Regions from separate parts of the Homo sapiens genome. Here region 2 is linked to region 1. The links come from fine-mapping of genetic effects on gene expression. A gene starts in region 1. The other region holds a variant in brackets. All regions are shown on one strand. Distances are from middle to middle. Region 1 holds the start of CHIC2 (cysteine rich hydrophobic domain 2). Region 2 overlaps LOC124900702 (a long non-coding RNA gene).

Evidence for each region. PIP is the estimated chance that this variant, and not a neighbour inherited with it, causes the effect.
Region 2: its variant is fine-mapped to the expression of CHIC2 in whole blood (TOPMed, PIP 0.95).

The regions. Positions count from the first base shown.
Region 1 is chr4:54,061,262-54,066,645 of GRCh38, reverse strand. It overlaps CHIC2 (cysteine rich hydrophobic domain 2), which reads left to right and starts at 2,041. Exons shown (of 6, transcript NM_012110.4): 1 at 2,041-2,464. The coding sequence starts at 2,346. RefSeq lists enhancers at 1-136, 2,133-2,633 and silencers at 1,734-1,973, 2,204-2,333.
Region 2 is chr4:53,910,740-53,916,123 of GRCh38, reverse strand. The region is part of intron 1 of LOC124900702 (a long non-coding RNA gene); the gene reads right to left. Among named protein-coding and RNA genes, the nearest start is that of CHIC2, 150 kb to the left of the region's middle. The variant G/A (reference allele first, on the strand shown) is at 2,569.

The DNA.
Region 1 (5,384 bases):
TTAAAAAAAAAAAAAAAAAAGACATTCAGGAAAGCTTGGACCACCAGTATACTCAATTAGACCATTAAATCTTAAATCGTCACATGGCCTTGAGAAAGCCACATAGCATCTCTGAAATATAGCATATCATAGCATCTCTGAAACATAGCATATCTGAAAATAAATACACCCTCTTTGCTTACCTCACAGGTTCTTGGGGGAATATTAAATGATATATTATGTACGTGCTTTATAAGCAGTAAAATATTACATAATGCTGTGGTAACCCTCACAGGGTTGATAAGCTAGGGAGCCTTAAGCATCACCTATTACCCCGTATTTATTGTGTACTGGGCCTTCTTCTAGGCACTTCACCGATCTTAAGCCCTTGAATCTGCTGAGCATCCCAATGGGGCAGGTACTGAACAGGGAAGTTAAGTGGCTTGTCTAGGGTCACACAGTAAGTGGCAGAGCTGACATTCAAGGCCAGGTAGTCAGGTTCCAGAACACACATTGTTAAACACCAGACCAAGCTGCCTCCTGTGTGCCCCACTGACACTTCCTGTGTCCTCCTCCATGAGCCCCTGGCAGAGATGACAATTGCTTGCCTTAACAATAGATAAGCTACCAGAAGTCAGGGCCTGTGCCTCATTCACACACGTCCACAGTGCCTGCCACATAGCTAGAGTTCAGTAGATATTTGTTGAATGAACAAATACCCTCCAGGGAGGGATACAATAAGTCTGATACAACTACTGTATTTTTCCTTCATTTTTTCTTGGCTAACCACACTCATTTCCTTCAGTTGTTTCCAAAAGGAGGTTGGCATCTCTCACTGTCCTCATTGACCTCCTTTGCACTTTCTCCACGTCAACAGTGACCCATCTAAAGCCGACTACTGTGACATGAACACTGCACTTGAAGAGCCTGACCAGCGCTGGGCTCAGTAGAACTATCCTTTCTTCTCCCATGGTGTATCCTCACTGTCCAGGACTCTCTTCTCAGAAGCCCACTCCTTCCCCTGTGCTGTTTATATGCTTAATGAAACCAAGTACCCAAAGTGACCGTTCAACTGTTACTAGGCAGCTAAGTAGACTCCATTAAACCTTTTCCTTCCTTCCTCCCCTTCTTTCTTTCTCTCCCATTCTTCTTTCATTCTTCTCGTCCTTCCTTCTATCCTTTCTTCCTTCCTGCCTCCTTTTCTTCCTCTCCTCTGCCCTTTCTTTCAGGTCTTTTTTGTGGTAGGAACTGGTAAGAAAAGGAAAGGAATTCCCTAAGATTTTAAGGAAACAACAACAAAAACCAGGTTATGTTTGGTGAGAGAGTTGGGGCAAGAAACTGCATCTTCTAATATGGAATCCAGGTAATTTATCAGTTTTTTTTCATAGCATGACTACGGTGAGATTTCTTGTAAGAAAAAAAAAAAAATACCAGCATCGCTGGCCTCATATATTGGATTATACTTAAGGGGATCAAGGGATAAGATGTTTGAATTTGGAGATGTCTTGAAAAATCCTGTGGTGAGCACAAATGTTTGCAGTGTCTCTGCTGGACTCCTCAAATTGGGAAAAAAGAGACTCTGGTTCTCATCATAGACTCAAAACCTGAGGAAAAGCGAGATGCGATTATTAGATAAACTGGCAATGACACGCACAAAAATGTGTCTATTCCAGCCAGGGCTTTTCTTTTCAGTTGTTTGTTTTGGTTAGAGATGACTTTGGGGAACTGCATGTCCCACTGGACATTCCAAGCTGCGTTGTCGGAGTCGCGGGTCGCGGCCTCCAGTCAGCGGAGCCGCCGCCCCCAGGGTCCGCCACCCAGAAGTCGGCGGAGGGGGGCCCGCCGGCGGGAGCGCGCGCCCCGGTCGCCGTCTGCGGGTAGAAGCAGAGGAAAGACGGTGGCCTGGGAGCGCGCGAGGCCGCACGTGCGCGCGCCCGCCCGCCCGCCAGCCAGTCCGCTCGCCCACGCGCCCACGCACGCGCCCGCCCGCCCGTTGGCCCGGGAAGTCTCGCGATGCCGTAGCCGGCTGCTCCCGCTGCGGGTGGCTCGGGCTGTTGCTGTGGTTTCCTGAGTTGCTGCTGCTGCGGCGGCGGCAGCGGCGTCTGTGCTTGTGGAGGTGTCGGCCTCTGGGCGGATGTTGACATTGTGTTGTTGTTATTGCTGATGGTAATGGCGGCGGCGGTGGCGGCGACGGTCCAGACCCCATCCCCTCTGTAGCCGGAGCCGAGACAGCCGACAGCGAACTCCGCGGCCTCGGAGCCGGCGGCAGCGGCGACTCCCCTCAGCCTCCGCCGCCTCGCCCGCCGGTACCCCGGCGCCAACCCCGGGAGTCAGGCCCTTTGGGCAGGGGAGCTCGGAGGCTCAGGATGGCGGATTTCGACGAAATCTATGAGGAAGAGGAGGACGAGGAGCGGGCCCTGGAGGAGCAGCTGCTCAAGTACTCGCCGGACCCGGTGGTCGTCCGCGGCTCCGGTCACGTCACCGTGTAAGGCCCGGAGGAGGGCGAGGGCGGGAGGTGCGGGCTGGGGTGGGCCCCGTTACTCCACGGGAGCCCCGTTTCCCCTGTGTCCGTCTGGTGTCGGGGGCCTTCCGAAAGAGTAGGCAACCAGGAAGTGAGAACTTGGCTTATTTTCATTTGTTTGGGTCTCCGAAGTGGGGACGGACGCTGTCCTTCCTCCTCCACACACCCCTTTAGCAGGCCCTACAGGCCCGGGCGATGTGACGATCCCAGTAGGCACGGGTTTTCATTAGGGTCTGCCCTGCGGGCCACCCTTCCTCTTCAGGGTGGAAGTACGTGTATTGACAGGGAGCCTCCTTGTTTTCTCGCCCAGTTACCCTGTGGTTGTCTGTGCCTTTGCACCCAGTGACATGGCTCAGAGGCCAGATCTGGGCCGTGTGAGACCCCAGTGACAATTGGCAGCGAAGCTCCGTTTCGTGTCTATTTCACACATACCCACAGGTCTCCCAGTTTTTCCACTAATTTCCGCAGAACTAATGCAAGTTCTTGTAATTGTACGTGATAAAAATATATAGTTGAACACAAATTTAAGATATACAGAAAGAAATATGTTTACAACAACAACAACAACAACTACGTGAGGGACATACACTCTGCTCAGGTTACTGAGGGAAAATTGTAGTCCTGAAGCTCCTCCTTGGGGCACGAACTTGGGGCTTGTTAATTTGGAAAGTCCCACTAGTAACATTAAAAGTCTGATATTAATAAGGAATGAAAGCTTTCGGAAAGACCATGACAAAGGAATGTGAAGCCTTGAACCAAATAATGAGCTGTCCGGAAGCAGGAAGTTTTGTAATGTTTCACTATGAAGTCCACAGTTTTGTACCACTTGATGTATTACATTGATACTCTCTCATTTTAGATCTCTTGTTCAAATAATAGATCAGACTTCCATACTTGTCAGGTATCTCTGTACTTCTTCACCTTTTCAGTGAAACAAAAGAGCCAGCAAGTCTGAGAATGTCTGGAATAGTCTTCATTATATTTTGGTGAAGAGTGAGTGGGATGTGCTGTGAATAACTTAGGGAAACAGTAAGACTTCTCATATAAGTTTGTCAGCAAAATAATTGCATTTCTCGTATGACCAGCCATATTGTTGTTTGAGTATGCTTATGTAATGCTTTAATTTCTTTAGTACCTGTTAGTTTATGTTCAGGTGACTTAACAGGGTAAAAACACTGCATAATTGCCATCACAGCACCATGACAAGACAGTGGAATTTAATTCACCACAATAATACTTTCTAAGTGTTGTCACCAGCTTAAGAAGTATAACCAAATATCATGGATATTAAACTTTTAACATATATCACAGAATTCATAACCTGCCATTTGATTTTATTTTGACTTTTAGGACCTTTTTGCACTGTTTTAAGCCTAAGGAGTATGTGGATGCTTAAAGAAGTGATTTCCAAACTTTGTCATGCCATCTATCCCTCCTTCTACATTCCTCATGTCAAAGAAAAGCTAGAGAATTTTGTCATTTAAAAAGGCGACGCTGTAGTTGTAATGTTTCCTCTGTTAAGGAGAAGAAAAGCTAAGCACTTTGTTGGGCAAGTGGAAAATGCAATAGTGGGCAAAGTGCTCAGAACCTAGGTAATCAGTAAACTTGATTGTAGTTGGCTACGTGGAGAGGTTAATAGGGTAGAAAATAATTATTAGTGGTTTTCAAACTTAGCTGTCCATTAGAATCCTGGGTGTCTTTAAAAAAAGACCATTGTCTTTGCTCCACCCCAGGCCAGTTGAAGGCCAAATACTAAGTGAGGGTCCTAGGAGTGGACAGTTAAAATAATAAATAAATAAATAAATAAATAAATAAAATCTCACAGGTGATTCTAATGTGTAGCCAAGATTGAAAACTATTCCAGGTTATAGGGAGGGACTATCTATCATCAATAAACAGTATGCCTTTCTACATTGTGAGTTAAATCTCTGATTTTCCTCAGCAACTTCCTTCTTCTCCCATTTATCTTGGTTCTAGGCTCTGGGTTAAAATCTATCTCAGCTACTTCCTGGATAAATTGTTTATTCATGACCTTTAGTTGAGATGGGGATAGTTATAGTCGATACCTTTTAAGATTATTAAGGATTAAATGAGATAGTACATGAAAAGAATTTATTGCACTGTGTGGTACTATGTTCAATAGATACTAGTTTTTATTATTCTCCTCCTCAGATATAGTTTTCCACTTTGAGAAACAGGTGTAAAACAAAGTACTAAAAAATTAGAACTGCCATTATCAAACATAACAATGATTCACCTTAGTCTTATTTTTCCATTTCTAAGCAATGTGTATGTGCTTAAATTACTGTGTTTGAAGTATTTTGATGACAATAAGGATCTTTCTGCATTGAAAACTTAACCTGTTTTGTGGCGACATAGGTAATAATAGAAAACTTTTTTTTTTAACATGGCTCTGTCATGCATAATTCCCAGGCACACTAGCACACCATGCCAGTGGGTAGCCCAGTTAACATCTATAAAGGTTTTTAGAATTGGTGCATATGTATTACTATAACTGTTGAGCACATTCAATTTTTCTTGCTTTAAATATAAATGGGAAGAGCTATTAGAACAGTTGTAGTAAGACTGGCTAAATTTAACACCCCCTCCTCCACCTTTTTTTTTTATTAGGTGCTGATCAGAGCAGTCTTCCCTTACCAATTTGAAAGTAATTGACCATGTAAACTGAATCATCTGTAGTCTAGATCAGTCTAGAAGGATATAGATCAATCCATATGTTTTTCACAGATGTAACTTTTGAGTAGCCCTTTACAATTGACTATTTCTGCTCTTTTTTTCTACTTTAATATATTACAGTATTACTGTTTATTTTAGAAACTGGTATTCTCACGTGACGTGATTGGCATGTCATTGTGGTGATGTG
Region 2 (5,384 bases), 150 kb after region 1:
AAATAGTATAATATGCTAAATGGTGATGAGTGCTGTGGAGACTTTGAAGCAGGGGTGGGGAATATGGCCATATTTCCCAGGGGAAGAAGTATTGCAATTTGAAATATGGAGGTAGATGAAAACCTCACTCAAAGATGATTTGCAAACAGAGAAGGAAATGAGGTGATCAGGAGCAAGACAGAGACTGTCTAGGGGATGAGGCTTCCAGACAGAGGGGATGATAAGTGCAAAGGAACCCAGGCAGAAGCATGCATGGGCTGTTCAAAGAACTCAAGTGCAGTTGGATCAGAGAGGGTGAGGAGAAGAGTAACAGGAGATGAAGTGAGAGAGGAAGTGGCCAGGAAGCCTAGCATTGTGCAGATCTGTTCACTGCACCGTAATGCCTGAGCTCACCAAGCCTTGTGCCTTGATGCAGGATTGTGTCTGCCTGGAGGAAGAAGCATGTTTTTGGACTAACAACAAGCTCTCTCTCTCTCGCTCTCTCTTTGAGATGGTCTAGCTCTGTTGCCCAGGCTGGAGTGTCATGGCACAATCTCAGCTCACTGCAACCTCCACCTCCCGGGCTCAATCAATCCTCCCCGCTCAGCCTCCAGAGCAGCTGGACTACAGGCACACACCACCATGCCTGGCTAATTTTTTTTGTATTTTTTTTGTAGAGATGGGGTTTCACCATGTTTTCCAGGCTGGTCTTGAACTCTTGGGCTCAAGTTATTTGCCTGCCTCAGCCTCCCAAAGTGTTGGGATTACAGGCATCAGCCACTGCGCCTGGCCAAGCTCTTTTTAATACCAATGGCCTATTCTGCAAGAAAAAGATGTCCACTGGGAGACTTGAGGCAGAGGAATGGCATATCTGACTTACTTATTCTTTGGAAACTGTGTTAAGATTAGACAATAGAGGGCAAAGATGAAATCAGAGAAACAAAGTCGAAGCTTTTACATAAGACGGTGACTTGGCTACTTGATGACATTAGTAGCTTGAAGGCATTTCCATTCTAGAGGTTGACAGCTTGGTCCAGTACTCAATGGCAGCAAACCTGGCTTAGACTTTTCTGGAAGCCTGTTGTAGCAGATGGCAGCCCCTTTTAGAAGCACAATCTAGGTGAGCTTGCCCTATGCATCATGCCCTTCCCCAGCCCGTTATAATTTGCCCTATTATAACATTGTAAGTCACCACTTATTGAACACCCACTATGTGGCAGGCTCAGTGCCAAGCATTTTGCATACCCATTTTCTTAACATCTTGCCCAACTGCATGAGGAATATCATAAGGAAGCTGAGAAAGAGCTCAGGAAGTTGCATGATATTGTACCATTTGTAAATGGCAGGGCTGTGATGCAAAAATCACATTATTCTTACCAAGACCTGGCTCTTCACTGCCTTGCTATATTAGGTTGGTGTAAAAGTAATTGCAGCCATTAAAAGCAATGGCATACAAAATATACGTTGCCTGGGTCTTCTCAGCTCTGTTCTGGGCTGTTAGTCAAATTACAAAGAACTAGCCTCCCCTCTGTTTGATATGAATCTCTCCCAGGCCTTTGCTCTCTTGTCTTCTAGATAAGTTAGCCAGACAGGCAGCTGACTAAGAAGCTATCCTATTTTTAAAGAGAAGAACATTTCATAATTTCCTTTGGTAACTCAGTTACTTCTAGTAAACAATGACTTGACTAACTACACTGTCACCCGGGGGGTGGGACTGTATCGTTGCATCTAGTACCTAGGAGGATGCTGACTCAATTAGTATTTGCTAAACAGATAAATGGAGTAATGAGCTTATCAGAGAATCTGATTCAAGATGAGGAAGACCCACAGAATGGACTAGCTGAGGAATGAGAGAGCAAGCAGTCAACCTTAGATGTGATCCCAATACAAAACTTTTTTTTTTTTTTTTCACAATGTAACCTTTAATCTTTTGAGGGGAGAAAGAAGGAAGGGAGAGGAATGAGCAAGACACAGGTAGCTCTGATGAAGAAACTCTCTAAAAAAGAGGGAATAAAAGAGACTTTTATTTTGCTTTCTTTTAATCAAATTATGTGTGGTCCTGGTTGTCAAGAGAGTTCTTAGTTTAAGTTCTAGCACTATCATTTATTTTTGTTTTTTAACTTTTATTTTAGGTTCAGGGATACATGCGCAAGCTTGTTACATAGGTAAGCCTGTGTCATGGGAGTTTGGCGCACAGATTATTTCATCACCAAGGTACTAAGCCTAGTACCTAACAGTTATTTTTTCTGATCCTCTCCCTCCTCCCATCCTCCACCCTCAAGTAGGCCCCGGTATCTGTTGTTCCCCTCTTTGTGCCCATGTGTTCTCATCATTTAGCTCCCACTTATAAGTGAGAACATGTGGTATTTGGTTTTCTGTTCCCATGTTACTTTGCTAAGGATGATGGTCTCCAGCCTCATCCATGTTTCTGCAAAGGACATGATCTTGTTCTTTTTTTGTGGCTGCACAGTATTCCATGGTGTATATATACTACATTTTCTTTATCCAGTCTATCATTGATGGCCATTTAGGTTGATTCCAGGTCTTTGCTATTGTGAATAGTGCTGCAATGAACATATACATGCATGT[G/A]TCTTTAGGGTAGAATGATTTATATTTTTGGGGGTATATACTCAGTAATGGGATTGCTGGTTTGATTGGTAGTTCTGTTTTTAGTTCTTTAAGGAATCACAACACTGCTTTCCAGAATGGTTGAACTAATTTACACTCGTACCAACAGTGTATAAGTGTTCCCTTTTCTCTGCAACCTTGCCAGCATCTGTTATTTCTTGACTTTTAGTAATAGCCATTCTGACTGGTGTGAGATGGTATCTCATTGTGGTTTTGATTCACATTTCTCTAATGATTAATGATATTGAGATTTTTTTCATATAGCACTGTCATTTAAGGCATGTGACTTTGAGGCAGTTGCCTCACCTTTTTAAGCCTTAGTTTTCTCATTGGAAGAGTATGGGCTACAATGCAATTGAACGTACTTGCTGTGTGTCAGGCACTGTTCTAGGAGCTTTCACAGATATATTATTTAAGCTCTACAGTAACTCACATGAGATAAGTGCTCTTATTATCCCCATTTTGCAGAGGAGGCAACTGAGGCATGGAGAGAATGAGTAACTGCCCGGGTATACACAGCTAGTGAGTCGTAGAGCTCCAGTTCGAACCCACTCAGTCTGTGCTCTTAACTACCTCATTATTTTCCCATAGACTTATTGTAGAGATCAAAGAAAATACTGTTCACAAAAGTATTAGGTTGGTGCAAAAGTAATTGTGGTTTTTGTCATTTAAAAGTAATGCATACTTAAAGTATAAGATTTCATAACCAAGGACCCAGAATGATGCCATATAGCATGATTCTGTAAATGCTTAATAAGAAGTCATGATTATAAGGGTTGTCTGACTCTTTCCTGGAGGCTGAGAGAATAAAGAGCCAAGAAGGATGTCTTCATCTGGTCCTGAAGTGGAGGAGAGAAGGACCTGGCACTGTTTGGAGTTTGGAACCTCCTTCACGTAGTGCCTGGTTTGGGTCTGAAATGATTGTCCTCCAGCTAAAGGGCAGGACCAGCATTCCTGAATGCCCCAATGTGTTATGGATAAAGAGAAACATCTCCAAGAGAGCAAAGCTCTGAATAAGAATTACGGCTAGGGGGCATGGTGCACCCCAGGGAAGGAGTCAAGGGGGAGACATTCATTTTGGGGCCAGAAGGGATTCCAACTGGACCACCACAAGGAACTCTAAGCTTTTTATTAAGCAGCTACTTTGTGCCAAGTCCTGTGCAAAGCAATTTCATATACATTACCTTATGCAATACAGTAACTTTGGACAGAACATTCTATTATTTTCTTGTAGAGATGTGGAAATTGTGTCTCAGAGCAGTGAAGCAATGTATTCATGCTCATATACCTAATAAGGGGCACCTCTGGATTTAAACCTGATTCCAGGTCTTTTCAATACACCATACTGCCGCCTAACGTCCTATCTTCCTTCCAGTAACATTGCTTTCATTTTCCCCAAGAACAAAGTTGTAAGTCTGTCCAAAATGTTGGAATATACCTTACTTTTTATTTTTATTTTTATTTTGTGAGACGGAGTCTCGCTTTGTCTACCAGGCTGGGGTGAAGTGGCATGATCTCAGCTCACTGCAACCTCCACCTCCCAGGTTCAAGTGATTCTCCTGCCTCAGCCTCCCAAATAGCTGGACTACAGGCATGTGCCACCATGCCCAGCTAATTTTTTGTATTTTTAGTAGAGACTGCGTTTCACCGTGCTGGCCAGGCTGGTCTCAAACTCCTGACCTCGTGATCCACCTGCCTTGGCCTCCCAAAGTGCTGGGATTACAGGCGTGAGCCATTGTGCCCTGCCATACCTTACTTTTTAAATGAAGGTTTGCCTAGAAAGCTGTTGTAATTACTTGTATATAAACCAGATCATGTTTTAAAAAATGTCTTCAGAGCACTAGCATTTTCTATAGGAATTATCCATTTGTAAAGCAAATAAGAATTCTCTTTCCCTCCCTCTGGGACTAATTCAGGTTTCATGGCAATCCTTGCTTTTTTTTTGAGACAAGGTCTCACTCTGTCACCCAGGCTGGAGTGCAGCAGTGCAATCTTGGCTCACTGCAACCTCTGCCTCCCAGGTTCAAGCAATTCTCCTGTTTCAGCCTCCCAAGTGGCTGGGACTACAGGTGTGTGCTACCACATCCAGCTAATTTTTGTCTTTTTAGTGGAGATGGGGTTTAATAGTGTGGCCCAGGCTGGTCTCAAACTCCTGACCTCAAGTGATCCACCTGCCTCAGCCTCCCAAAGTGCTGGGATCACAGCCATGAGCTACCACACCTGGCCCAATGCTTGTTTTTATATTGGGCATTTAAAAGCCATTGTATATCAATATCAAGACAAGTGGAAACCATACAAGATCCAAGAAAACCGCATTCCTAAACCAACAGCACAGCACCTGGAAGAGAGATGGCAAATGGTGTCAAACTGTGATTTGGGATGTCAAGATGGTCTTCCAGAATGATGGTCTTCAAGCATGATGGTCTTCAAGCATCAGCCAGGTATACCTTGATTTGGAATGTGACCTTCTTCTAACCTTTCTCTGAGCACCAGTCCTGGTTTTCAGCGATTCCTTGGACATCTCCCCATCTATATTTTGTAGAAGTATCCAAGTCAACACACTCAAGGCCAAACTCCTGAGTTTCTTACCCCACCCAGCATTTCAGCCTTCCCTTAGTGCTTTTATGAATTACTTTTTCAGTCTTCCCTCGCTATAACTTCGCTTTTCAACATTTACTTTGTTGGCAAAACACTTTGAAACACTGTGCGTCTTACACTTGTACCTGTCTTTCCTTTTGGGTTGTGTCTACCACAAAACTTCGTTACATCTGTTTAAG